Linked DNA regions of Homo sapiens. The protein of the gene in region 5 purifies or fractionates together with the protein of the main gene of each other region. This does not show direct contact. Each region holds a gene or a part of one and is shown on either strand. Other genes may lie near its edges.

What was found.
Region 1: the proteins of NPAS1 (region 5) and PRUNE1 purify together in Homo sapiens (affinity purification with mass spectrometry; 2 studies listed by BioGRID and IntAct, with this or other methods). This does not show direct contact.
Region 2: the proteins of NPAS1 (region 5) and ITPKC purify together in Homo sapiens (affinity purification with mass spectrometry; one large-scale study listed by BioGRID and IntAct). This does not show direct contact.
Region 3: the proteins of NPAS1 (region 5) and PPP6R1 purify together in Homo sapiens (affinity purification with mass spectrometry; 2 studies listed by BioGRID and IntAct, with this or other methods). This does not show direct contact.
Region 4: the proteins of NPAS1 (region 5) and FAM83D purify together in Homo sapiens (affinity purification with mass spectrometry; 2 studies listed by BioGRID and IntAct, with this or other methods). This does not show direct contact.
Region 6: the proteins of NPAS1 (region 5) and KIAA1671 purify together in Homo sapiens (affinity purification with mass spectrometry; one large-scale study listed by BioGRID and IntAct). This does not show direct contact.
Region 7: the proteins of NPAS1 (region 5) and PSD3 purify together in Homo sapiens (affinity purification with mass spectrometry; one large-scale study listed by BioGRID and IntAct). This does not show direct contact.

The regions. Positions count from the first base shown.
Region 1 is NC_000001.11:151,018,449-151,021,948, forward strand, and holds part of PRUNE1 (exopolyphosphatase PRUNE1), read left to right. Parts: intron 1-18; coding exon 19-221; intron 222-3,500. UniProt on the Homo sapiens protein: Phosphodiesterase (PDE) that has higher activity toward cAMP than cGMP, as substrate. Plays a role in cell proliferation, migration and differentiation, and acts as a negative regulator of NME1. Plays a role in the regulation of neurogenesis.
Region 2 is NC_000019.10:40,720,112-40,723,611, forward strand, and holds part of ITPKC (inositol-trisphosphate 3-kinase C), read left to right. Parts: intron 1-3,500. UniProt on the Homo sapiens protein: Catalyzes the phosphorylation of 1D-myo-inositol 1,4,5-trisphosphate (InsP3) into 1D-myo-inositol 1,3,4,5-tetrakisphosphate and participates to the regulation of calcium homeostasis.
Region 3 is NC_000019.10:55,245,518-55,249,017, reverse strand, and holds part of PPP6R1 (serine/threonine-protein phosphatase 6 regulatory subunit 1), read left to right. Parts: intron 1-1,908; coding exon of another isoform or gene 1,909-1,914; coding exon 1,915-2,141; intron 2,142-3,339; coding exon 3,340-3,500. UniProt on the Homo sapiens protein: Regulatory subunit of protein phosphatase 6 (PP6). May function as a scaffolding PP6 subunit. Involved in the PP6-mediated dephosphorylation of NFKBIE opposing its degradation in response to TNF-alpha.
Region 4 is NC_000020.11:38,939,917-38,943,416, forward strand, and holds part of FAM83D (protein FAM83D), read left to right. Parts: intron 1-2,042; coding exon 2,043-2,210; intron 2,211-3,500.
Region 5 is NC_000019.10:47,026,337-47,029,836, forward strand, and holds part of NPAS1 (neuronal PAS domain-containing protein 1), read left to right. Parts: intron 1-3,500. UniProt on the Homo sapiens protein: May control regulatory pathways relevant to schizophrenia and to psychotic illness. May play a role in late central nervous system development by modulating EPO expression in response to cellular oxygen level.
Region 6 is NC_000022.11:24,955,716-24,959,215, forward strand, and holds part of KIAA1671 (uncharacterized protein KIAA1671), read left to right. Parts: intron 1-3,500.
Region 7 is NC_000008.11:18,874,204-18,877,703, reverse strand, and holds part of PSD3 (PH and SEC7 domain-containing protein 3), read left to right. Parts: intron 1-3,500. UniProt on the Homo sapiens protein: Guanine nucleotide exchange factor for ARF6.

The DNA.
Region 1 (3,500 bases), on a different chromosome or scaffold from region 5:
TTTCACTTTCCTATCTAGACAACTGAGGCTGAGGAAGTCTTTGTGCCAGTTTTAAATATAAAACGTTCTGAACTACCTCTGCGAGGTGACATTGTCTTCTTTCTTCAGAAGGTTCATATTCCAGAGAGTATCTTGATTTTTCGGGATGAGATTGACCTCCATGCATTATACCAGGCTGGCCAACTCACCCTCATCCTTGTCGACCATCATATCTTATCCAAGTAAGCACAAGGAAATTAAATTGCTACCTATCATGTACCATGCTGGGCTCTGATGAGTGAGATATAAAGAGAGGAAGAAAGAGTTTTTGCTGGCTGGGCATGGTGGCTCATGCCTGTAATCCCAGCACTTTGGGAGGCCAAGGCGGGCGGATCACCTGAGATCAGGATTTTGAGACCAGCCTGGACAACATGGCAAAACCCCGTCTCTACTAAAAATATAAAAATTAGCTGGGCGTGGTGGCAAGTGCCTGTAATCCCAGCTACTTGGGAGGCTGAGGCGGGAGAATCACTTGAACCTGGAAGGTGGTGGTTGCAGTGAGCCGAGATCGTGCCACTGCACTCCAGCCTGAGCGACAGAGCCAGACTCCGTCTCAAAAAAGAAAGAGTTTTTGCTTTCAGGGATCTCATAGGCTAATCATAATTGATAGGTCATATTAGATATAGAAAAACAACACAAAATATTGTCAGTTCTGCAGTTATATGTATGTCTGTGGCATATAGACATACCCTATAATAAAAAGAAATAGAACGTGTTGAGTTCAAACTAAAGGGTAACTCAAAAATCATTTAAATCTGCCTTTGGTATCATTATTTAAGATTTTGTGTGCCGGGTGTGATGGCTCACGCCTGTAATCTCAGCACTTTGGGAGGCCAAGGCAGCCAGATCCATTAAGCTCCAGGAGTTCAAGACCCGCCTGAGCAACATGGCAAAACCATGTCTTTACAAAAAATTTTTAAAAATTAGGCACGGTGGTGCATGCCTATGGTCCCAGCTACTCGGGAGGTTGAGGTGGGAGGATCACTTGAGCCCAGGAGGTCGAATCTGCAGTGAGCCAAGATCACACCACTCCACTCCAAGCCTGGGAGACAGAGGGAGACCCTGTCTCAAAAAAAAAAAAAAAAAAGATTCTGAGACAGATTTATTGTAATAGAAACCTTTGAAAAATGTTTGCAATTCTCTTTTTATTTTTTTACTTATTATTTATTTTTGTACTTACTTATTAAATTTTTTTTAGAGAAGAGGGTCTTGCTATATTGCCCAGGCGGATCTCAAATTCCTAGGCTCATGCTATCTTCCTGCCTCTGCCTCCCTAAGTGCTGGTTTATAGGTGTGAGCCACCACACCTGGCCTGCAACTCTATTTTTAATTTTAATTTTAATTAATTATTTTTTTTTGAGATGGAGTCTTGCTCTGTCACCCAGGCTTCAGTGCAGTGGTGTGATCTCGGCTCACTGCAACAACCTCTGCCTCCTGGGTTCAAGCGATTCTCCCTGCCTCAGTCTCCTGAGTAGCTGGGATTACAGGTGCGCGCCACCATGCCCAGCTAATTTTTATATTTTTTACTGGAGACAGGGTTTTGCGCTGTTGGCCAGGCTGGCCTGGAACTCCTGACCTCAGATGATCTGCCCACTTTGGCCTCCCAAAGTGGTGGGATTACAGGCGTGAGCCACCACACCTGGCCTATTTTTAATTTTTAAAAAGTGGCCTGGTGTGGTGGCTCACGCCTGTAATCCCAGCACTTAGGGAGACCTGTCTGACCACTATAGCGAGACCCTGTTCTCTAAAAAAAAATAATAAATACAAAAATCTATAAACATAGTGTGACCTTGTCTCTACTAAAAATAAAAAAATTTGCCAGGTGTGGTAGTGCATGCCTGTAGTCCCAGCTACTTAGGAGGCTGCTGAGGTGGTAGGATCACTTGAGCCTAGGAATTGAGGCTTCAGTAAGCCATGATCACATCACTGTACTCCAGCCTGAGTGACAGGGCAAGAACTTGTCTCCAAAAAAATTTTTTTAAGTTATCAAAAGGGCCAGGTGTGGTGGCTCACACCTGTAAACCCAGCACTTTGGGAGGGTGAAACAGGAGGGTTGCTTGAGCCCAGGAGTTCAAGACCAGCTTGGGCAAGATGGTGAGATCCCATCTCTACAAAAAAATTTAAAAGCACACAAAAAGTTAGCAAAAGTTTTTCTACATAAACTCTTACGATTTTAGAATAATGTATTATGTTAGAATATATAAATATCTCAGGCCAGGCGCGGTGGCTCATGCCTGTAATCCCAGCACTTTGGGAGGCTGAGGGGGGCGGATCATGAGGTCAGGAGATGGAGACCATCCTGGCTAACATGGTGAAAACCCGTCTCTACTAAAAAATACAAAAAATTAGCCGGGCATGGTGGCGGACGCCGATAGTCCCAGCTACTCGGGAGTCTGAGGTAGGAGAATGGCATGAACCCGGGAGGCGGAGCTTTCAGTGAGCTGAGATCATGCCACTTGCACTCCAGCCTGGGCGACAGAGCAAGACTCCATCTTAAAAAAAAAAAAAAATAGCTGGGCGTGGTGGCTCGCGCCTGTAAGTCCCAGCTACTTGGGAGGCTGAGGCAGGAGAATCGCTTGAACCTAGGAGGTGGAGGTTGCAGTGAGCCAAGATCGCGCCACTGCGCTCCAGTCTGAGCGACAGAGTGATGCTCTGTCTCAAAAAAAAAAAAAAAAAAATTAGCCAGGCCGGGCGTGGTGGCTCACGCCTGTAATCCCAGCACTTTGGGAGGCTGAGGCGGGCAGAATCACCTGAGGTCAGGAGTTTGAGACCAGCCTGACCAACATGGAGAAACCCCATCTCTACTAAAAATACAAAATTAGCCAGGCGTGGTGGCACATGCCTGTAATCCCAGCTACTCAGGAGGCTGAGGCAGGAGAATTGCTTGAACATGGGAGCCAGAGGTTGCGGTGAGCCGAGATCATGCCATCGCACTCCAGCCTGTGCAACAAGAGCGAAACTCCGTCTCAAAAAAAAATTTTTTTTAATCTATAAATATCTCAATAATGTCTGTTTAACAAATGTACACATTTATAATAATTCCATCCCTAATTTACTACTGGAAAAAACTACCAAAAAAGCAACACGATTATGTGACTTTCCTAAGTCTGTTTGGCTCCTGCTAATATTTTTTTCTTGAGCACATTGTGGTTATAGCAGGATACTGACAGAAGGCAGCCTGAGAGAGCATTATCCATCTATGGATTCATTCAGTAATAAACTTTCCTTTTTTTTTCTTTTTTTTTTTTGAGACAGAGTTTTCTCTTGTTGCCTAGGTTGGAGTGCAATAGTGCAATCTAGGCTCACTGCAACCTCCGCCTCCCGGGATAATTTTGTGTGTGTGTGTGTGTGTGTGTTTTTAGTAGAGATGGGGCTTCACCATGTTGGTCAGGCTGGTCTTCAACTCCTGACCTCAGGTGATCCGCCCACCTCGGACTCCCAAAGTGCTGGGATTACAGGTA
Region 2 (3,500 bases), 6.3 Mb from region 5:
TCCCAGCACTTTGGGAGGCCGAGGCAGGGGGATCACCTAAGGTCAGGAGTTCAAGACCAGCCTGGCCAACATGATGAAACCCTGTCTCTACTAAAATACAAAAATTAGCCAGGCGTGTGATGGCGGGCACCTGTAATCCCAGCTACTTGGGAGGCTGAGGCAGGAGAATCGCTTGAATGTGGGAGGCGGAGGTTGCAGTGAGCCGAGATTGCACCACTGCACTCCAGCCTGGGTGACAGAGCAAGACTCGGTCTCAAAAAAAAAAAAACAAAAACAACAGATGGGGAAGCTGAGGCATAGAGAGGTGAGAGATTCTTTGCTTAGGGTTGGCCACGTCAAGTCAGAGCCAGGATTCTAACTCAGTTCTGGCTGAGTTTCAAACCCATCGTTTAAACCCTCCAGTGTGTAGATCTGTTCCTAACTTGTCTCCCTCCCAGGCCTCCCTATCTCCAGTTTTTTTCTCATCCTTCCAGAATCTGCCTCCATGGCCCAGCTTTGTCTGCTCAGGTGCCCTCTCTGAGAGCAGTCAGGGGCTCAGTGCTGCGTTTGGAGCCTCCGGTCTCCAGGCGCCTTCCCAGAATCGACTTCCTTCCCTCCTCCTGACCCCCTCTGCTGTAACTAGGCCTGAGTACACACTGTTCCTTGAACACTCTTCTGTTGTCCTGCCTCCACGCATTGCTCAAGCCGTTCCCACTGCCCAGCATACCCGTGCTTCCTTCTCCCTTAATTTTGAAATCCTCTCTGACCGTAAAGGCTCAGCTTCCTTTCTCCCTTTCCTCCTTCCTTCCTTCTCACCATCCTGTCCTTTTTTTAAAATTGTGTTCTCTTTCTTTTTCTTTTTTTGGTAGGGATGGGGTCTTGCTATCTTGCCCAGGCTGGTCTTGAACTCCTGGGCTCAAGTGATCCTCCTGCCTCAGCCTCCCAAAGTGCTGGGATTACAGGTGTGCTATCCTATTCTTCTAATGAGACAAAAATCACTCCCTAAGCCCCTACCATGTATTTGGTCCTATGTTAGCTTTGCTGGGGAAACAGCAGTGACCAAGACACTCATGGAGCTCCCAGGCCCATGAAAGAGACAGACCAATCAGCCGACAGTCACAGTTCAGAGTGGTCAGGAGGATGTGTGAGCCCAGAAGGAGGTCACTGGCCAGACACAGGGTATCAGAGAGGGCTTCCTGGAGGAAGGGGCATATAAGCTGAGACCATTGTGAAAAAAATCCGAGAAAGCCCAGATAAACCATTGGATCTAACTTTTTTTTTTTTTTTGGAGGGCGTGCAGTGCGGAGTTTCACTCTGTTGCCTAGGCTGAAGTGCAGTGGCGAGATCTCAGTTCACTGCAACCTCAGCCTCCCGGGTTCAAGTGATTCTCCTGCCTCGGCCTCCCAAGTAGCTGGGACTACAAGCGCACGCCACCACGCCCGGCTAATTTTTTTTTTTAGTAGAGAGTGGGTTTCACTATGTTGGCCAGGCTGGTTCTGAGCTCCTGACCTCAGGTGATCCACCCACCTCAGCCTCCCAAAGTGCTGGGATTACAAGCATGAGCCACTGTGCCCGGCCCGGATCTAACATAAAACAGAGAGAGAAGATATTATGTTTATGATTAAGGGGCCAGGTGTGGTGGCTTATGCCTATAATCCCAGCACTTTGGGAGGCTGAGGTGGGAGGATTGCCTGAGCCCAGAAATTTGAGACCACCCTGGGCAACACAGTGAGACCTCATCTCTACTAAAAGGAAAAAAGAACTAGCTAGATGTGGTGGTATATGCCTGTTTTCCAGCTATTCGGGAGGCTAAAGCAGGAGGATTGCTTGAGCCTGGGAGGCAGAGGTTGCAGTGAGCCAAGATCACACCTCTGCACTCCAGCCTGGGCAACAGAGTGAGATCCTGTCTCAAAAAAAAAAAAAATTACTATTAAAAAAATCCCAACTAACATTCTTCAGTCCAAGCATCAAAGAATGTTTCTGGAGCGTCTGTCGTGTGCCAGGCCATGTGCTGGGGACATAATCATAACCATGACAACCCCAGTCTCTGCCATCATGAGCTTGTAGTCCAGCAAGTGTGTAGGGGATAAGCCCCAAGGCACTGGGATCCAACCAGAGCTAGAACCCCAGCGCTGTGTGGGGTGATGTTAGGTAAGTGGCTTCACCTCTCAGACCCTCTGTTTCCTCCTTTGTAACACCGAGACGATAATCTCCCTGGGGTTGTGTTTTTAGAAATTAAGTAGGTTGTGGCACACTGAGTCTTTGTCATTGTGTCTGGAATGTTCCAGGTACTTAGTAAACAGGAACCTTTATTAATCATCTCTTCCCCAGGGCCGGCAGCTGGATTGGGGAGGGACTAGCCCTTCCCGAACCCTGACTCCCTCTTAACCTTCCCACTGTCAAAGAGATGTCTGTGAGGTAGCTGGGCTCTGAGGGGGCGGGAGAGATGAACACGTCCCTGATCCTGGGGTAGGAGAGGGATGAGCCATACAGTTTCCTTCTCTGGAGGTGACCCACTCTTCCAGTACTTGCTAAGGGACTTGACATGCTTGTGGGGTGCAGAATGTATTCCTGTGTGTGTATGTGTTCATGAATCAGACACTAACCCTGTCTCAAAAAGCTCATAGTTTAGTCGGCATGATACAACGAAAACCCTGTTTTCTATTTGCTTCTCTGGTTTTCTTTCTTTCTTTCTTATTTTTTTGAGTCAGGGTCTCACTGGGTCACCCAGTCTGGAGTGCAGTGGCACAATCACTGCTCACTGCAGCCTCACCCTCCAGGGCTCAAGTGATCCTCCCACCTTAGCCTCCTGAGTAGCTGGGACTACAGGTGCACACCACCACGCCTAGCTGATTCTTAATTTTTTATTTATTTATTTATTTATTTTTTGAGATGGAGTCTCGCTTTCTCGCCCAGGCTGGAGTGCAGTGGCACAATCTCGGCTCACTGCAACCTCTGCCTCTCAGGTTCACACCATTCTCCTGCCTCAGCCTCCCGAGTAGCTGGGACTGCAGGTGCCCGCCACCATGCCCAGCTAATTTTTTGTATTTTTAGTAGAGACGGGGTTTCACTGTGTTAGCCAGGATGGTCTCAATCTCCTGACCTCATGATCCGCCTGCCTCAGCCTCCCAAAGTGCTGGGATTACAGGCATGAGCCACTGCGCCCGGCCTAATTTTTAAACATTTTGTAGAGATGGGGTCTTGCTATATTGCCCAGGCTGGCCTCAATCTCCTGGGCTCAGTGGTCCTCCCACCTTGGTTTCCCAGTGTTGAGATTACAGGCGTAAGCCATCGTACCCGCTGCTTTTGTGGTTTCCTTTGTTCTCTCTCTCTTTGTCTACTTCTGTTCATCTTTTTCTTTTCATCATTACTTTGTATCTCTCTCTTTTAGTCTTCCTATATTTGTTTTGTTTTTTTTTTGTTTTTGAGACAGTCTTGCTCTGTCGCCCAGGCTGGAGTGCAGTGGCGTGTTCTTGGCTCACCGCAACCTCTGCCTCTCGGGTTCAAACGACTCTCATGCC
Region 3 (3,500 bases), 8.2 Mb from region 5:
TGTTGCCAATCTAGAGTTACCGAGGCAGACGGGCAGACTGGGAGCAAGGTCTGGACTGCAACCTTCTGTGCTGAGCCCAGCCTTAGGGTGGTCAGGGTGGATGAGCAAGGAGATCCTGGCCCCAGGCTGGCCTGGCTTCAAGCTAGCCAGGAAGGAGAGGAAAGGAGGCCCAAGAGGCGTTCGACCTGCCTGAGGCCATGTGTGGGACTCTGTCCTGCGTTTTGTCAGCCCAGGCTGCTCTCCTAAGCTCCGATGAAGTCTCTTCCCTGGGCCTGGTGCTCCACGTCTCCCTGTCTCTTCCCTGGGGCCTGGGGCTGAGTCAGGCCTGGGGGCTGGTGGGCACTGAGGTGACAGGTCAGCAGGGCTCGAGGAGATGGTGGAGGCCTGTGCAGAGGGAATGACTGAACTGGAAGAAGCTGCAGAAGGGCATTGGAGGAGAGGGACTAGCATCTGTGCCTGGGAGTGATGGTGGTGAGGGCCTGCGGGAGAGGCACCCTTGGCCTCTTGTGCCGGCTCTGCTCTGTTCTCAGCATCCTCTGTAGTGACTTGGGGGTAGCAGTGGCCTCTGCCTTAGCTGGTGATGCGGTTGTCAGGAGGCAGGTAATGAGCGTGAGCTCTGGTCAGTGTCTTAACTGGTGAGAGCTCCGTGAAGGCTGTCTGCTGGGACCAGATGGCCTTCGAGATTCCAGGATGCCGCCTGACTTACCGGGCTTTGGTTGCCCCTTGTCCTGTGTGGCGGAGTGATGACAGCTTTCTTGGGGGCTGCTGGTGAGCTTGGACATCATGTGCACAGCACACATGCAGAGCCAGGACCATTGTCATCAAGTGCCCAGAGCACAGGTCACAGGTCAGGTCTGTAGTGGAAGGTCTGTGTGGAGGCTTTCTAGGGCTCTGCGGAGCAGTGATGTAGTACAGGGCAGGGGCTCAGAATGGAGTTGCCTGGCATCTTGTTAATACTCTGTGTGTGTTTCCTTATTGCCAGTGAGTTCCCATGCACGAGCGTTTAGGGGCTGGAACCAGGCTGAGGAACCAGGCACTGTCCTCCAGAGGGCGGGAGCCAGCTCCAGATGGGGACAGGGTCAGGGCCGGGTGTTGCCAGCTTTGTTCTTCCCCCACAGAATCTGTCTATCCCACCCTGGGTTCCTTCAGGTCCTGGTCAGTGACTATTCTGGGAGCCCCTCCCTTCCAACTTTTCCTCTTCCTTGTTCCAGCCCAGGTGCTGGGTGAGAGGATGGTTGGGGTGTGTTTGTGTGTGAGTGGTGTCCAGGCAACGGCCACAGCCTGGAGATGCACAGACTTCCTCTCTTCCCCCTGCCGCCGCCCCATGCCTCCCACGTAGCCTTGGGGGATTTGCTGGGCCAAGCAGCAGCCGTGTGCTGGAAGTCATCGGGCATCTGAGTTTGTTGAGCAAATACAGGTTGAAGCAAATTTGAAGCCAGAGGTTAAGGCCCTGCCTCTGCAGTGTCTCTCCCAAAAGTAGGGATAGTGGACCCAGACCCTCATGGGGAGACAGGGCCCGAGGCCCCTCAGTGCACAGGGTCCAGCCTCTTCTCGCAGGCCCTGCACATGGTCCACACCTGGGGACTTCACCAGGCCTGAGGCCTCAGGTGTGAAATGACCCCCTGGACCTCAGGCGAGGCGGCCGGGAGGCTGGAGATGGGGGAAGAGGGGCAGGCTCGAGGGCAACTGCAGGAGCCTGGTGCTCACTGGGAGCCTTAAGCCTGAGTGATGGAGGCAGTGAGCCTGCGGGCAGTCCCGGGGCGGGGCCGGGCTCAGCATGAGGCAGAGGGCTGGGACTTGGGGAGAGGCTGTGCCCAAGGTGGGCACTCAGCCCCTGTGGTCAGTGCCTCGTCCAGTGGGGACTCCCTGGGGCGTCTGACGCGGCGCTGGTTGTGTCTATGCCTGCAGGGCGCCATGTTTTGGAAGTTTGACCTGCACACAAGCTCGCACCTGGACACGCTGCTGGAGCGGGAGGACCTGAGCCTGCCCGAGCTGCTGGACGAGGAAGACGTGCTGCAGGAGTGCAAGGTCGTCAACCGCAAGCTGCTGGACTTCCTGCTGCAGCCACCCCACCTGCAAGCAATGGTGGCCTGGGTCACCCAGGAGCCGCCAGATAGCGGTGAGGAGCGGCTGCGCTACAAGTGAGTTCCCCAGCTCCTGGCCAGCCCGTCCCTATCAGCATCACACATACCTTCACTACGCAAGCCTCACAGCTACCCTGAAATGCGTCAGTGTCAGTAAACTCCAGTTTGGGGATGAGGAAGACGAGGCTGGGAGCAGCCAGGCTCCTGCACAAGGCCTCACAGCTCACCGGGTGCAGACCAAGCCTGTGCTCTGGAGGGCAGTGGCACAGTCACGGGTCACGGCAGCCACAAATTCACGGGCCCAGGTGATCCTCCCGCCTCAGTTGCCCGAGTAGCTGGGACCACAGGCATGTGACGACATGCCCGGCTGGTTTTTCTCTTTATTCGCCGCCTTTTATTTTATTTACTTTTTATTAAACTTTTTTTGTATGTTTGTGAAACACTTGTCTGCTATTGAAGACACTTTACTTATTTTTTAATCCAAGCGATGCTGAAAAGACACTTTTTTTTTTTTTTTTGAGACTCACTTTATCACCAGGTTGGAGTGCAGAGGCATGATCGGCTCACTGCAACCTCCTCCTCCCAAGTTCAAGTGATTCTCCTGCCTCACCCTCCTAAGTAGCTGGGACTATAAGCCAGCACGCCCAGCTAATTTTTGTATTTTTGGTAGAGACAGGGTTTCGCCATGTTGCCCAGGCTGGTCTTGAACTTCTGACCTCAAGTGATATGCCTGCCTCAGCCTCCCAAGGGGTACCTCCCCACAGTCCTGGAGCAGACTGTGGCCCCTCAGGGCCTTGAGTGGCACGCTGGTGGGGCAGCTCTTGTCTTGGAGCCGTCAGGCACCGTGTGAAAGTTTGGAGGAGGGAGGCAGGAGGTGAGGTTGGAAGTTGAGCAAGGTTCCAGGAGTCAGCCGGAGCTGGGGCAGCATACGGGGTTGCAAGTGAAGCCGCTGAGAGGCAAAAGGGATGAGTGTTAGCTGCTGGGGGATTGGGAAGCGCAGGAGCTTCAGGACCAGCTTGTCTTGGGGGTGGTAAGGAGCCTAGGATGGGATGGTTGGGTGTTAGCAGGGTGGAGGAGGCCTGGTGTGGGCCCTTGTTTCTGCGTCACCCTGTCCTCTGCCCTTTCCCCTTCCTGGACAGGGGTCTCTGCAGTTCCCAGAAACCCAGTGCCCGGTGCAGAGAAGAGGGTGGAGCCTTGCCGCCCCCTGCCCCCGGCCTCCGACCCGAGCCCCCACCCGCCTGTGCTTGCCTCCCAGGTACCCCAGTGTGGCCTGCGAGATTCTGACCTCAGATGTGCCCCAGATCAATGATGCCCTGGGTGCTGATGAGTCCCTTCTGAACCGGCTCTACGGCTTCCTGCAGAGCACCGGCAGCCTCAACCCACTGCTGGCCAGCTTCTTCAGCAAGGTCATGGGCA
Region 4 (3,500 bases), on a different chromosome or scaffold from region 5:
TCTTCCTGAGGAGGAAACTGAGGCTCAGAGAGATTAAGCCACTTGCCCAGGGTCACACAGCTGGTAGGTGGTAGAGCTGGGTTCTATGCCCAGAACTTTTGCCTTTAATTCCTGTTGTATGACCCGAATGAGTGGGATGAATAGAACTGTCAAAATAGGATGTGTAAAGCCAGTGGAGGATGTAAACTTCAGAGGATGCCACAAATTCAGAAAGAACGCTTCTCATTTTTTAAATCACTGTGTTCAGTGGGTTTCAGCCATGCCCTTTACCAAGAATAGCCCACAGCTTAGACCATCATTAAAAGGGGTGGGGTGGGAAAGGCAGCAGGAGAGTAACTGGTCTTCTCAACCCCCTCACAGCAATGACTTCCCAGGAACTGGTGTTTCAGGGTCTCACATCCTAGTAGACCAGGCCCTGGAGTGTTGGAGAAAGACAGCCAAATTGCCTTTTTGCCTCTTCATTCCTTCTTTAATCCCCCAAATCCTTAAGGAGTCATGACTGTCATATACTGTCCTAAGTCCTCTGGGACCACAGAAATGACTCAATCCCATTCAAGAGCCTTTGCTGCAGGAGAAGGAGTGAAACCCATAAATGAATAATCCTAACTTTCAGAAAAAGAGTTAATGTGATTCTGAGAGACAGGCTTTTACTGTGGAAATGGGGAGGAAGGAGAAACCCTTATATCTCCAGACTACAGAAGAGCCCCCAAGCCTCGGCTTCCTTAGTTAACACCCCCAACTTCTGACTCAGTTTGTCAGGACCTGTTTCTAAGCCTGGAGGTTTGGACACCCCCACTGCCCTGCCAGGAGTTTGCTGAGGACCTTGGTTTTAAGCCTGCAAAAGGTGTGATTAGAGGCATTGTGGCAGGAGCAGCCTGTCTTTAAAAGAGCGAGGAAAGCTAGGCGGTGTCTCCCTGTGTTGAACTGTCTGGACGGCTCCAGCTCTGGACTGGTAAAGTGAATAAACGAGCAGATACTAAGGGATCCTTTGTACCTTGCACTTTATGTAACATAGTCATTTAGTTCTCGATACAACCCTATTTTGCAGCTAAGGAAACAGACATTTGAAACAGCTGTAATTTGCCCAGGAATGCATGGCTAAAAGGTAGCTCTTAATTGTAGTCTGATGCTAGGTGTGGAAAATCACTTGGGAGGCATGAATGGAGCCATGTTGTTGGGGAGAAGAAAGGCCTGTTCTGAGCTTAAGGGCAGAATCCTTAGGAAATATTTCCCTGTTCTTTGCTGTGGGCTTGCACTATGGACGGATACCAAAGAACTGCAGAGAGAACCTTTTACTGAGGAGAGGCCAGTGCAGTGGAAGTCATTTGGTTAGAACCTGCCCAACAGACAGCTGATCAGGCCTGGCTGGTAGAAAGAACAGAATGTTAACAAATATGGTATGCAGTGTTAGGGAGGCAGAAGAAGGGAGAATCCATGGGCCTGCTTCGATTGCTTTCGAGTCATGAGTTGGTGGTGAATGGGACAGGCCTTAAAAAAGTCAGAGATTATGATTCAAAACCAGACAATAATTTAAAAAATAGATTTCGAGAATGCTACCCTCCAGAAGGGCCCTCAGAGAGAATCTGAGGTTTTATTTACTTGTTTAACGGACAGCAAACTGAAGCCTGGTGGGGAAAGCAACAAGCCAAAGATGACAGTGTGTTACCCACAGAACCAGACAGCTTGCTGATCTGAATAAGCCTGTAAGACAGGAGTTTAGTGGAGGAATAGAAGGTGAATGGAGCAGGTTCATAAGAGAGCAAGGCAGTGGATTGATCTGTATTTTTGAGAAACCTCCCAGCATGGAGTTGGGAGTGTTAGCTAGGCCAAGTCAAGATTTCTAGGACACGGGGCCCAAGTGTCTTTGGAGATGCAAAAGAGTCCATGGTGAGGGGGGCACCAACACTGCAGAAGGGGGAGGGAAGGATAACTGTTGGATAGGGATCATTTCCCAGTTCTGAGTGGAGTCCAGAGTCCAGAGAGCGTGCTGTAAGGTGGTGTCCTATAAGCTTATCATGTGCTCTTCCCTGTTTCACCTGTAGGTGATTGCAGTGGTCATGGACGTGTTCACAGACATCGACATCTTCAGAGACCTGCAAGAAATATGCAGGAAACAGGGAGTTGCTGTGTATATCCTTCTGGACCAGGCTCTCCTCTCTCAATTTCTGGATATGTGCATGGATCTGAAAGTTCATCCTGAACAGGAAAAGGTTTGTGGTACACTATATCCAGTTTCACCATAGTCAACAAATATGACCAAGCATCCATTATCTACAAGCTGGCTGGTGGCGGTATCCCTGTTTACAAGGAAGGGACTGAGGCTGTGAGCAAAGTCATTTGCCTGGTCTTACAGAAAACAAACAGTACCTGTGACCTGGCAATTCTCCTAGGTGTCTACCCAAGAGAAATGAAAATATGGGCCCCCACAAAAATTTATGTGTGAGTTTTATAGAAGCATTATTCATAAAGCCAAAGAGTGGAAACAATCCAATGCCAATCAACTGATAAGTGGATAAATGATATGTTGTCTATTCATACAATAGCATACTATTCACCTATAAAAAGGAATGAAGTGCTGATACATGCTACAGCATGGATGAACCTGCAAACGTGCTAAGTGAAGGAAACCGGTCACAAAAGACCACATATGATATGATTCCATTAAGTCAGAATAGGGAAATCTATAGAGACATTGATTAGTGGTTGCCTAGGGCTGGGGAGTTGGGGGAAGGACGGGATTATTGCTAAAGGGTACTTTATTTTAGCACTTTCTTTTTAAACTGATGAGAATGTCCTAAAATTGACTAACGGTGATGATGGTTGCATATATCTGTGGATATACTAAAAACTACAGAATTTGTGTTAATTGTATGATCTGTGAATTAGATCTCAGTTAAGCTCTTTAAAAGAAATGTTAGGATTCAAGACCTTGGCCTCTCCCCTGTACTGTCCTGCCTCTTAATAGAGCCTGGACCAGCTCCCTTGTTGAAGGCCTGAAGGCCACCCTGGAAGTTGCTGCTTTTGACAGTAGCTCCAGGAGGCTGCCCTTTTAATCACAGCAACCAGTATTTTTTGAGCCCCCACTCTGTCTTTGGCACTGCTCCATGCTTTTTTTTTTTTTTTCCTGAGATAGAGTCTCACTCTGTTGCCCAGGCTGGAGTACAGTGGCCCAATCTAGGCTCACTGCAACATCCCTCTCCCAGGTTCAAGAGATTATCCTGCCTCAGCCTCCCAGTTAGCTGGGATTACAGGTGCGTACCACCACACCTGGCTAATTTTTGTATTTTTAGTACAGATGGGGTTTTGCCATGTTGTCCAGGCTGGTCTTGAACTCCTACCTCAGATGATCTGCCTGCCTCGGCCTCCCAAAGTGCTGGGATTACAGGCATGAGGCCCCATGCCCAGCCTGCTCTGTGCTTTTAACAAATGTTATGTAACTGAATCCTCAAAGCAGCCCCTATCAGGTAAGTGGCACCTGTGTTTTAGACCAGGAAATAGTG
Region 5 (3,500 bases):
AGGCCCTGAGGCAGGTGGGGATCAGCTTGCTGGGTGCAGAGCCTCATGCACTGTGGTAGGGGTTTGGCTGTTACCCACAGTGAGAGGGGAGCCACAGAGGTGGTGAGGGCGGAAGTAGGAGCCCAGTGAGGATGAGGACGTGGTGGTCCAGCCAGGGCAGCTAGACTGGGCTGGGGCCATGGGTGGTGGAACACAGGTGACATGGTCAGGTCCAACCCCTGGGACTTGCTTAAAATGCATGTGGGTGTGAGAGACACAGAGGGCGGCCTCCAAGAAACCGCCCGAAAAGGCAGTGGTGCCCTGATGTTATCTGTAGTCATACTGAAAAGAAAAGTGCGGCCGGGGCGGTGGCTCACACCTGTAATCCCAGCACTTTGTGAGGCCGAGGCAGGTGGATCACCTGAGGTCAGGAGTTCAAGACAAGCCTGACCAATATGGTGAAACCCCGTCTCAACTAAAAATACAAAAATTAGCCGGGCATGGTGGTGGTGCCTGTACTCCCAGCTACTTGGGAGGATGAGGCAGGAAAATCACGTGAACCAGGAGGCAGAGGTTGCGGTGAGCTGAGATCCTGCCACTGCACTCTAGCCTGGGTGTCAGTGCTAGATGCCGTCTCAAAAAAAAAAAAAAGAGAGAGAGAGAATGGTGGCATGACTCCCAGTATTAGGCACCTACTGTATGCACTAGCCCATTCAACTCTATCACTGTAGACCCATTTTACAGATGAGGCTGAGGAAAGTAAAGGCAAAGGTGACCCGGCACTGCCCCACCCCATGGTGCTTGCCCCCATGCAGCCCTCAGGCCTGCGGCGCTTTGACGATGGGGCATGTGAGGGACCCCTCTCCCCGACTTCCCTGGGTGATGAAGCCCCAGCCTCTTCTCTCCAGGACCCAGGGTCAGCACATTCCTTCAGGGCAGTTGAGAAGGGCAGGTGACGGGGGAGATCTGGGAACTTGGAAGAGGCCTTGGCTTCTGCCTTCTGCCCCTGGATCCCCCTCTCTCTGCCCCAGGTCCCCCCTCTCTCTGCCCCAGGTCCCCCCACACTCTGCACCCGGTTTCCCCCTCTCTCTGCCCCCTGGGTCCCCCTCTCTCTGCGCCTGGTCTCCCTTCTCTCTGCCCCTGGTCTCCCGTCTCTCTGCCCCTGGTCTCCCGTCTCTCTGCCCCTGGTCTCCCATCTCTCTGCCCCTGTTCTCCCTTCTCTCTGCCCCTGGTCTCCTGTCTGTCTGCCCCTGGTCTCCCTTCTCTCTGCCCCTGGTCTCCCGTCTCTCTGCCCCTGGTCTCCCGTCTCTCTGCCCCTGGTCTCCCGTCTGTCTGCCCCTGGTCTCCCTTCTCTCTGCCCCTGGTCTCCTGTCTGTCTGCCCCTGGTCCCCTTCTCTCTGCCCCTGGTCTCCCGTCTCTCTGCTCCTCGTGCTCCCTCTCTGCGCAAGAGATGAGGACACTGAGCAGGCTGTGATAAGAACCACAGCAAGTGTTTGTTAAATGGATGAGTGATGTTTGGGTTCTGGACATGGGAGGGCGGATGTGGAAGTGGTGAAAAGTCTCCTGCTGAATGTGGGGGACAGAGGAGTGGGGACATTTTGAGGGGAGAGGGAGAGGAGGAAACAGCGGGAGGCATCGGGGAGTTGGTGGGATCGGGAGGTGGAGGCTGGGGGTAAAAAGACACATCAGTCAGTGATCAGGAGACTCTGGGGGTCCCTTTCACAGGGGACCGGACCCGTGTATGGGGAAGAGCAGGTCCCCAAGCCCCCCCACCACCACACCCCCTAATCCCGACGTGCCCATTAATGTTGTTAATTGCAGCGGTTCAGTCTGACCCAGGCTGATCCTGGGAGAGGGAAAATGAAGGAATTAGCAAAAATGACAGGGGAAAATTGCGACAATTAGCAGGCAGCATTGTTCCTGCCTGTCACCCGGCTGGTTCCGAGCTGTATCTTGAGGGAGGGGGTCCCCGTCAACCCCCCAGCCCCCCAGTAATTGTTCCTGGAGCTCCAGGCGGAGGTGGAGGCAGGGAGGAACAGCCAGGAGGGTGTGGGGTACTCCTGGGAGGAGGAAGCTCAGCCCAGACACTAGGGGGCTGGGGAGGCGGGGGCTGCGCGCCCATGGGGGAGGGGCGGGGTTTCGCCGCCTGGTGTTTTGATGGTCGGGTAATAACAATAGTAATCACACTATTAATACCAGTCCCGGCTCTGTGCTGCAGCATCTGCTTCTGCCAGGCCCCAGCCAGGCCCTTCTGTCTGTTAAGTGGACTGAATGCGTAACCAGCCTGGGGAGTCACCGCTCCTGGCAAACCCGCTTGACAGAGGAGGAAACTGAGGCACAGAGCGGCAGAGAGGCTGGTCCCAGGGCACACAGCCAGGGAGGGGAAGCGCTGGGGCCTGACAGGAGACCTGGCCCCTTAGCCCCATAGGAAAAAGGCACTTGGGGACCCTCAAGGTCACCAAGTCTCTCCCCTGGCTCCCCACTCTCAGCACTGGGTTGGAGCTCCCTCGGGGGTTGTCCTCTGCAGGGTCAGGGTCACCCAGGGGTCCTGGGTGGGGACAGGCTCCGGGACCCCCAGGTCTCTGCCTACCCCCAGCACAAGGTCCAGGGTCCTAGCTCCTGACTGTAGGGAGGATGGGGCAGGGGGCACAGGTCTCACTTTGTCTTGGTCTCAGTTGCCATCTCTGTCTCTCTCTGCATCTCTTTTCCTCTGTCTCTCCATGTCTATTTTTTTTTTTAGTTTTTGTTTGTTTGTTTGTTTTTGTTTTTATTTTTGTTTTTTTGAGATGGAGTCTTGCTCTTGCTGCCCAGGCTGGAGTGCAATGGCACAATCTCGGCTCACTGCAACCTCTGCCTCCCGGGTTCAAGTGATTCTCCTGCCTCAGCCTCCAGAGTAGCTGGGACTACAGGTGCACACCACCACGCCCGGCTAGTTTTTCTGTAGTTTTAGTAGAGACAGGGTTTCACTATGTTGGCCAGGAAGGTCTCGAACTCCTGACCTCAGGTGATCTGCCCACCTCAGCCTCTCAAAGTGCTGAGATTATAGGCGTGAGCCACTGCACCCGGCCTTAGTATTTTTATTTATTATTATTATTATTATTGAGATGCAGTTTCACTCTTGTTGCCCAGGCTGGAGTGCAGTGGTGGGATCTCAGCTCACTGCAACCTCCACGTCCCGGGTTCAAGCAATTCTCCCTCCTCAGCCTCCCGAATAGCTGGGACCACAGGCACATGCTACCACACCCAGCTAATTTTTTGTATTTTTGGTAGAGACAAAGTTTCACCATGTTGGCCAGGCTGGTCTTGAACTCCTGGCCTCAGGTGATCCACCCACCTCCGCCTCCCAAAGCACTGAGATTACAGGTGTGAGCCACAGTGCCCGGCCTCCCCATTTTATTTACTCATTCATGAGTTGGACATTTGTGTGCTTTCCACCTTTTGAATGATGTGAAGTATGCTGCTATGAACACGCATGTACATGCTACAACGCCTGTTTTCAATTCTTTTGATTACATAGATTA
Region 6 (3,500 bases), on a different chromosome or scaffold from region 5:
GCAGGCTGCTAGAAAAATCCAGGTGAGAGGCCAGGCGCGGTGGCTCACGCCTGTAATCCCAGCACTTTGGGAGGCCAAGGCAGGACGATCACGAGGTCAGGAGATCGAGACCATCCTGGCTAACATGGTGAAACCCCATCTCTACTAAAAATACAAAAAAATTAGCCAGGCATGGGGCAGGTGCCTGTTCTCCTGGCTACTTGGGAGGCTGAGGCAGGAGAATGGCATGAACCGGGGAGGCGGAGCTTGCAGTGAAGCAAGATCATGCCACTGCACTCCAGCCTGGGCGACAGAGTGAGACTCCGTCTCAAAAAAAAAAAAAAAAAAGAAAAGAAAAAAGAAAAATCCTGGTGAGAGACCGCGGTGCGCGGTGGACTGGACGTAGAGACCAATGGTGTTGGAGGGGTGTTCACTGACAACTTTGACATTGATCAGTGTTACATTTAGAGAGCCACTCACTTTGAAGATCCCTTCCTCAAGGTGGGTGTAACAGTCTACCTGGGGTAAGGAAACCCCTCAGAGGGAGTGGTATCAGTACTGAATTCAGTTTAGCAAACCTGCTTTAGAACCCTGTGCCTGTTCAGGGGTAGGTATAAAACATGCCAGTCCTCAAGGACTTCCTGTGGGGAGACATGGGGCACATTATTCCCATTTCACTGATGCAGGCCTCTGTGGCATTGTGAGGCGTTTGCCAGGCAGCAGTGGCAAAGCAGGAATTTGAACTCCCTTCCAACTTGCAACTAGTGAATATTTGGGTTCAGGTTAAGCCGTAGAGAAGCAACAGAGGAAGGTGGGTTTCAGTTGGGTGTGGAAGGGATAAATTGAAGGAGCCTTCCCGGAGGAGGCAGATAGAAGGGAGGGAGCCAGCCAGCCGGGCGTGGTGGCTCACGCCTGTAATCCCAGCACTTTGAGAGGCCGAGGCGGATGGATCACGAGATCAGGAGATCGAGACCATCCTGGCTAACACGGTGAAACCCCGTGTCTACTAAAAATACGAAAACAAAAAATTAGCCGGGCGTGGTGGCGGGTGCCTGTAGTCCCAGCTACCTGGGAGGCTGAGGCAGGAGAATGGCGTGAACTGGCGAGGCGGAGCTTACAGTGAGCCGAGATAGTGCCACTGCACTCCAGCCTGGGCGAGAGAGCGAGACTCTGTCTCAAAAAAAAAAAAAAAAAGAAGGGAGGGAGGGAATCAGCCAGAGATAGTCCAGGGCAAACCCTGGCCCTGCCTGCTCCTGGCTGTGGCCTTGGGCATGGTTATGGTTTTGAGACTCGACTTCCCTATCTGTAAAAAGGGCTCATGATAGGATACTCCCATTCTCAAAAGGTTCTTATGTGAGTTTACTGAAGCAGTGTATGGACAGTGCTAGGCCCCGTGTCTATGCTCTGTAAGGGGTGGTATGATTATTATCACTATAGCCTGTCATCAGGATAAGTTCCAGGTGGGTGGTGCTTTGCTCAACCTGGTGTGTGCCTGTGTGTGTTGGGGGGAGAGAGGGAGTGACCCACAGGTGATACTTGAGTCTTAAAGGATGAGTAGGAGGGAGGGCTGGGACATTCCAGGCAGAAGCAACAGCACTGGCAAAGGCATAGATCGCCTGGAGAACTGCATGCCAACTGATATACCCAGAATTCAGGATGTGCTGAATGAATAAAAGTTAGACCATGGGCAGCAAAAATTCCTTTTATACCCCAGACACTCCCTGAATTTCTAAACCTGAAGGCTTTGGCAGGTTTGGGACAGAGAGGAGGGCAGGAGCATCCCTGTCCAGGAGTTCACTCTCCTTCTTCCACTCACCCATCCAGATTATAGGAGTGTGAACCTAGATAAGCCATGTCCCCCCGGGACCTCAGTTTCTTCCTCTGTAAAATGGGAGGACTGGGGAGAATGTAGGTAAAGCACATAGTGCATCAGAGCTGCGCTGTTATGCCAGAATCTGGGCTAAGCTCTTTTGTTCCTTTTTTTTTTTTTTTTTTTTTTTGAGACGGAGTTTTGCTCTTATTGCCCATGCTGGAGTGCAATGGCAGGATCTCGGCTTACTGCAGCCTCCACCTCCTGGGTTCAAGTGATTCTCCTATCTCAGCCTCCCGAGTAGCTGGGATTACAGGCATGTGCCACCACGCCTGGCTAATTTTGTTATTTTTATTAGAGACAGGGTTTCTCCATGTTGGTCAGGCTGGTCTCGAACTCTCGACCTCATGTGATCCACCCACCTCGGCCTCCCAAAGTGCTGGGATTACAGGCACCCGGCCTTTTTTTTTTTTTTTTTTTTTAATATTTTACAACAAACCCAGGTGGTGCCTGTTTTTGAGACCCTCGACTTTACAGTTCATGAAACTGAGGCTTCAAGAGGTTATTGATGTGCTGCGAGGTCACGCAGCGGGAAAGTGGAAGAGCTGGGATTTGAACCCAAAGCTGTCTGCCTCAAAGCCATGCCCTTCCCACTTGCATGGCTCCCAACACAAGGAGGGGTGCTTCTGCCTAGTCTCACTACTCAAACTGCTGCCATTTAAGAAGAAGCTAAGGCCAAGCACAGTGGCTCCTGTCTGTAATCCCAGCGCTTTGGGAGGCTGAGATGGGAGTATTGCTTGAGCCCAGGAGTTTGAGACCAGCCTGGGCAACATAGCGAGACTGTCTCTGAAAAAACAATTTAAGACCGGGTGAGGTGGCTCACGCCTGTAATCTCAGCACTTTGGGAGGCTGAGGTGGGCGGATCACCTGAGGTCAGGAGTTCGAGAGCAGCCTGGCCAACATGGTGAAACCCCGTCTCTACTAAAAATACAAAAATCAGCCAGGCGTGGTGGTGGGGCACCTGTAATCCCAGCTACTCGGGAGGCTGAGGCAGGAGAATCCCTTGAACCCCGGAGGTGGAGGGTGTGGTGACCTGAGATCATGCCATTGCAATCCAGCCTGGGTGACAGAGCAAGACTCTGTCTCTTAAAAAAAAAAAAAAAAAGGTTAAAAATTAGTCTGGCGGTCAGGCACAGTGGCTCACACCTGTAATTCCAGCACTTTCGGAGGCAGAGGCAGGTGAATCACCTGAGGTCAGGAGTTCAAGATTAGCCTAGCCAACATGGAAAAACCCTCTCTCTACTGAAAATACAAAACAAAACAAAAAAATAGCCAGGTATGGTGGCACATGCCTGTAATCCCAGCTACTTGGGAGGCTGAGGCAGCAGACTGCTTGAACCTGGGAGGTGGAGGTTGCCCTGAGCCGAGATTGTGCCACTGCACTCCAGCCTGAACGATAGAACAAAACTTCGTATCAAAAAAAAAAAAAAAAAAGAAAAGAAAAGAAAAAAAATTAGCCTGGCAGTGTGTCAGGCTGTGTCCCATCTAATTCAGAGGCTGAGACAGGAGCATTGCTTGAGCTCAGGAGTTCGATGCTGCAGTGAGCTTTGATTGCACCACTGCACTTTAGCCTGAGACAGAGTGAGTCCTTGTCTCAAATAAATAAATACATAAATACATAAAAATTTAAAAAATTAAAATTAAAAATAAA
Region 7 (3,500 bases), on a different chromosome or scaffold from region 5:
CAGGCATGGTGGTGCATGCGTATAGCCCCAGCTACTCGGAAGTCTGAGGTGGGAGGATCGCTTGAGTCCAGGAGGTCAACACTGCAGTGAACTGTGATTGCACCACCGTACTCCAGCCAGGGCGACAGAGTGAGATCCTGTCAAAAAGAAAAAAAAAAAAAAAAGATAGGCATCTAGCTCAATGGACTTGAGAGTCCAGAAATAAACCTTTGCATATATATTAATATATGTATATGTTTGATTTTTGACATGGGCACCAAGGCTTTTTGATGGGTAAAGAATAGTCTTTTCAACAGATAGCTCTGGGACAACTGGATATCCACATACAAAATAATGAAGTTGGATTTCTACTTCACATCATGTACGAAAATGAATTGAAAGTGGATGAGAGAGCTAAATGTAATAGCAAATACTGCAAAACTCTTAGAAGACAACGTAAAAGTAATCTTTGTGACGTTGGTTTAGACAATGATTTGCTACATATGATACAAAAAGCACAAGAGACCAAAGGAAAAACGGATAATTTGGATTTCAGCAAAAGTAAAAACGTTTGTGCTTCAGAAGACACTGTCAATTAAGTGAAAAATGACCACTCACAGAATGGTAGAAAACATTTGCAAAGTGTACATCTAATAAAGAACTTATGTCCAGAATATATAAAGAACTCTTAGAACTCAGTAATAAAAAGACAAATAATTCAGCCATCAAATGGGCATGTCTCTAAAAAAGATGCACAAATGGCCAAAAAACACATGACAAGGTGCTCAACATAATTAGTCATTAGGGAAATGCAAATGAGAATCACAGTGAGATACCACTTCTAGGATGTCTGTAACAATAAACAGACAATAATAGAATCTTAGACATTGCTTGTAGGAATGTAAATAGTGCATTTGCTTTGGAAAACTGTTCAGCAGTTTCTTAAAATATTAGACATAGGTTTACTATATGATCCAGAAATTTCACTCCTAGGTATATATAGAAGAGAATAACAAATATATTTAGGCCAGATGCGGTGGTTCATGTCTGTAATGCCAGCGCTTTAGGAGGCCGAGGCAGGCGTATCCTTTGAGCCCAGGAGTTCAAGACTAGCCTGGGCAACATGGTGGAACCCCATCTCTGCCAAAAGAAAAAAAAAGAAAAATTAGCTGGGCATGGTGGTGCATGCCTGTGCCTATAGTCCCAGCTACTCAGGAGGCTGAGGTGGGAGAATGGCTTGAGCCCAGGAGGTCAGGGCTGCAGTGAGCCATGATCGTCCCACTGCACTCCAGCCTGGGTGACAGAGTGAGACCCTGTCTCAAAAAAAGGAAGAAAAGAAAAAATGTATTTAGACCCTGAAACTTATATACACATTTTTTATTCATAGCAGCCAACAAGTTGAAACAACTCCAATATCTCATCAACTGATGAATGGCCAAAGAAAAGACTGCTCCCGTATGATGAAACATTATTTGGCAATAATAAAGAATGAAGTTCTCAGCCAGGCTCAGTGGCGCATACCTGTAGTCCAGCTACTTGGGAGGCTGAACTGGGAGGTTTGCTTGAGATCAGGAGTTTGAGACCAGCCTGGGAACCATAGAGAGACCCTGTCTCTCTTTACATGTAAAAAATAATAAAATAAAAGGAATGAAGTTTTGATAGATGATATGACATGAGTACACCTGACAACCTTGTGCCAGGTGAAAGAAGTCAGACCCCAAATGCCATATATTGTATGATTGCATTTATATGAAGTGTCCAGGATAGACCATTTCATAGAGATAGAAAGTATATTGGTAGTTACCAGGGGCTGAGAAAAGCTGAAATGGGGATTGGCTGCTTATGGATACAGGGTTTCTTTTTGGGAGTGATAAAAATGTTCTGGAATGGCCAGGCGCCATGGCTCACGCCTGTAATCCCAGCACTTTGGGAGGCCTAGGCGGGCGGATCACAAGGTCAGGAGATCGAGACCATCCTGGCTAACACTGTGAAACCCCGTCTCTACTAAAAAAATACAAAAAATTAGCCAGGCATGGTGATGGGCACCTGTATCCCAGCTCCTCGGGAGGCTGAGGCAGGAGAATGGCGTGTATCCAGGAGGCGGAGCTTGCAGTGAGCCGAGATCGCGCCACTGCACTCCAGCCTGGGTGACGGAGCAAGACTCCATCTCAAAAAAAAAAAAAGTTCTAGAATTAGATAGTGGTGATAGTTGTACAGTTTTGTGAATATACTAAAAATGCCTGAATCTTAAAAGGTGGAACCATGAAAAGACCTACTGCCTTCTTTACTGAAAGACATAAAATATCAATATTCCACCCTAGGAAGAAGGCTCTTTATTGTTTTTAGCTATCATCTTTTTCAATTCATTGTTTGAAAAGTCACTTCCTCTTCAGATGTAAGCAAGCTACATTTTATTAGTTCTGTCTTGTAGAAGGTGTTATAAATACTATCCCAGAGAAGTGCTTGTTAGATTCCATCAACACTTGATTCAGATTTAATTTTAAGAATATATTTCAGGCCAGGCATGGTGGCTCATGTGTGTAATCCCAAGGTCAAGGCGAGAGGATCATTTGAGGCCAGGAGTTTGAAACCAGCCTGGGCAACACAGTGAGACCCCATCTCTACAAAAAGTAAAAACGTTAGCTGGACATGATGGTGCATGCCTGTTGTGGTCCCAGCTACCCGAGAGGCTGGAGTGAGAGGATCACTTGAGCCGAGGAGTTCGAGGCTGCGGTGAGCTATGTTCGCACTCCCACACTCCAGTCTGGATGATAGAGTAAGATCCTGTCTTTAAAAAAGAGAAAAAAGTGTATATATTTCAAATTATTTTACAACATGGAATATGAAACAGCATGTACTCTCAGAGGTATTGCTATTTAACACACTGGGGGATACCGTGTGTTCAATAGCAATACACCTATTATTAGTAATTGTATCAGTAATTAATAATTATCAGTTATTAGGATAACTGATGTTTCCAAGTTACCTTGGAAATCAAATTTTTTTTTTTTTTTTTTTTTTTGAGATGGAGTCTTGCTCTGTCACCCAGGCTGGACTACAATGGTGCAATCTCGGCTCACTGCAACCTCTGCCTCCCAGGTTCAAATGATTCTCGTGCCTCAGCCTCCCAAGTAGCTGGGATTACAGGCAGAATCAAGTCTTTTCAGCCATTTCAGTGTATATATATACACAGACATTTATAAAATATTTCACTAAATAGGAAGGTTGTAGCTCTGCAGTAGTTTAAAAATGGTAACAATGGCCAGGTGCGATGGCTCATGACTGTAATCCCAGCATTTTGGGAGGCCGAGGCAGGTGGATCACGAGGTCAAGACATCGAGACCATCCTGGCCAACATGATGAAACCCCGTCTCTACTTAAAACAAAAAACAAAAATTAGCTGGGCATGGTGGCACGCACCTGTAGTCCCAGCTACTCTGGAGACTGGGGCAGAAGAATCACTTGAACCCGGGAGGTAGAGGTTGCAGTGAACCGAGATCGTACCACTACACTCCAGCCTG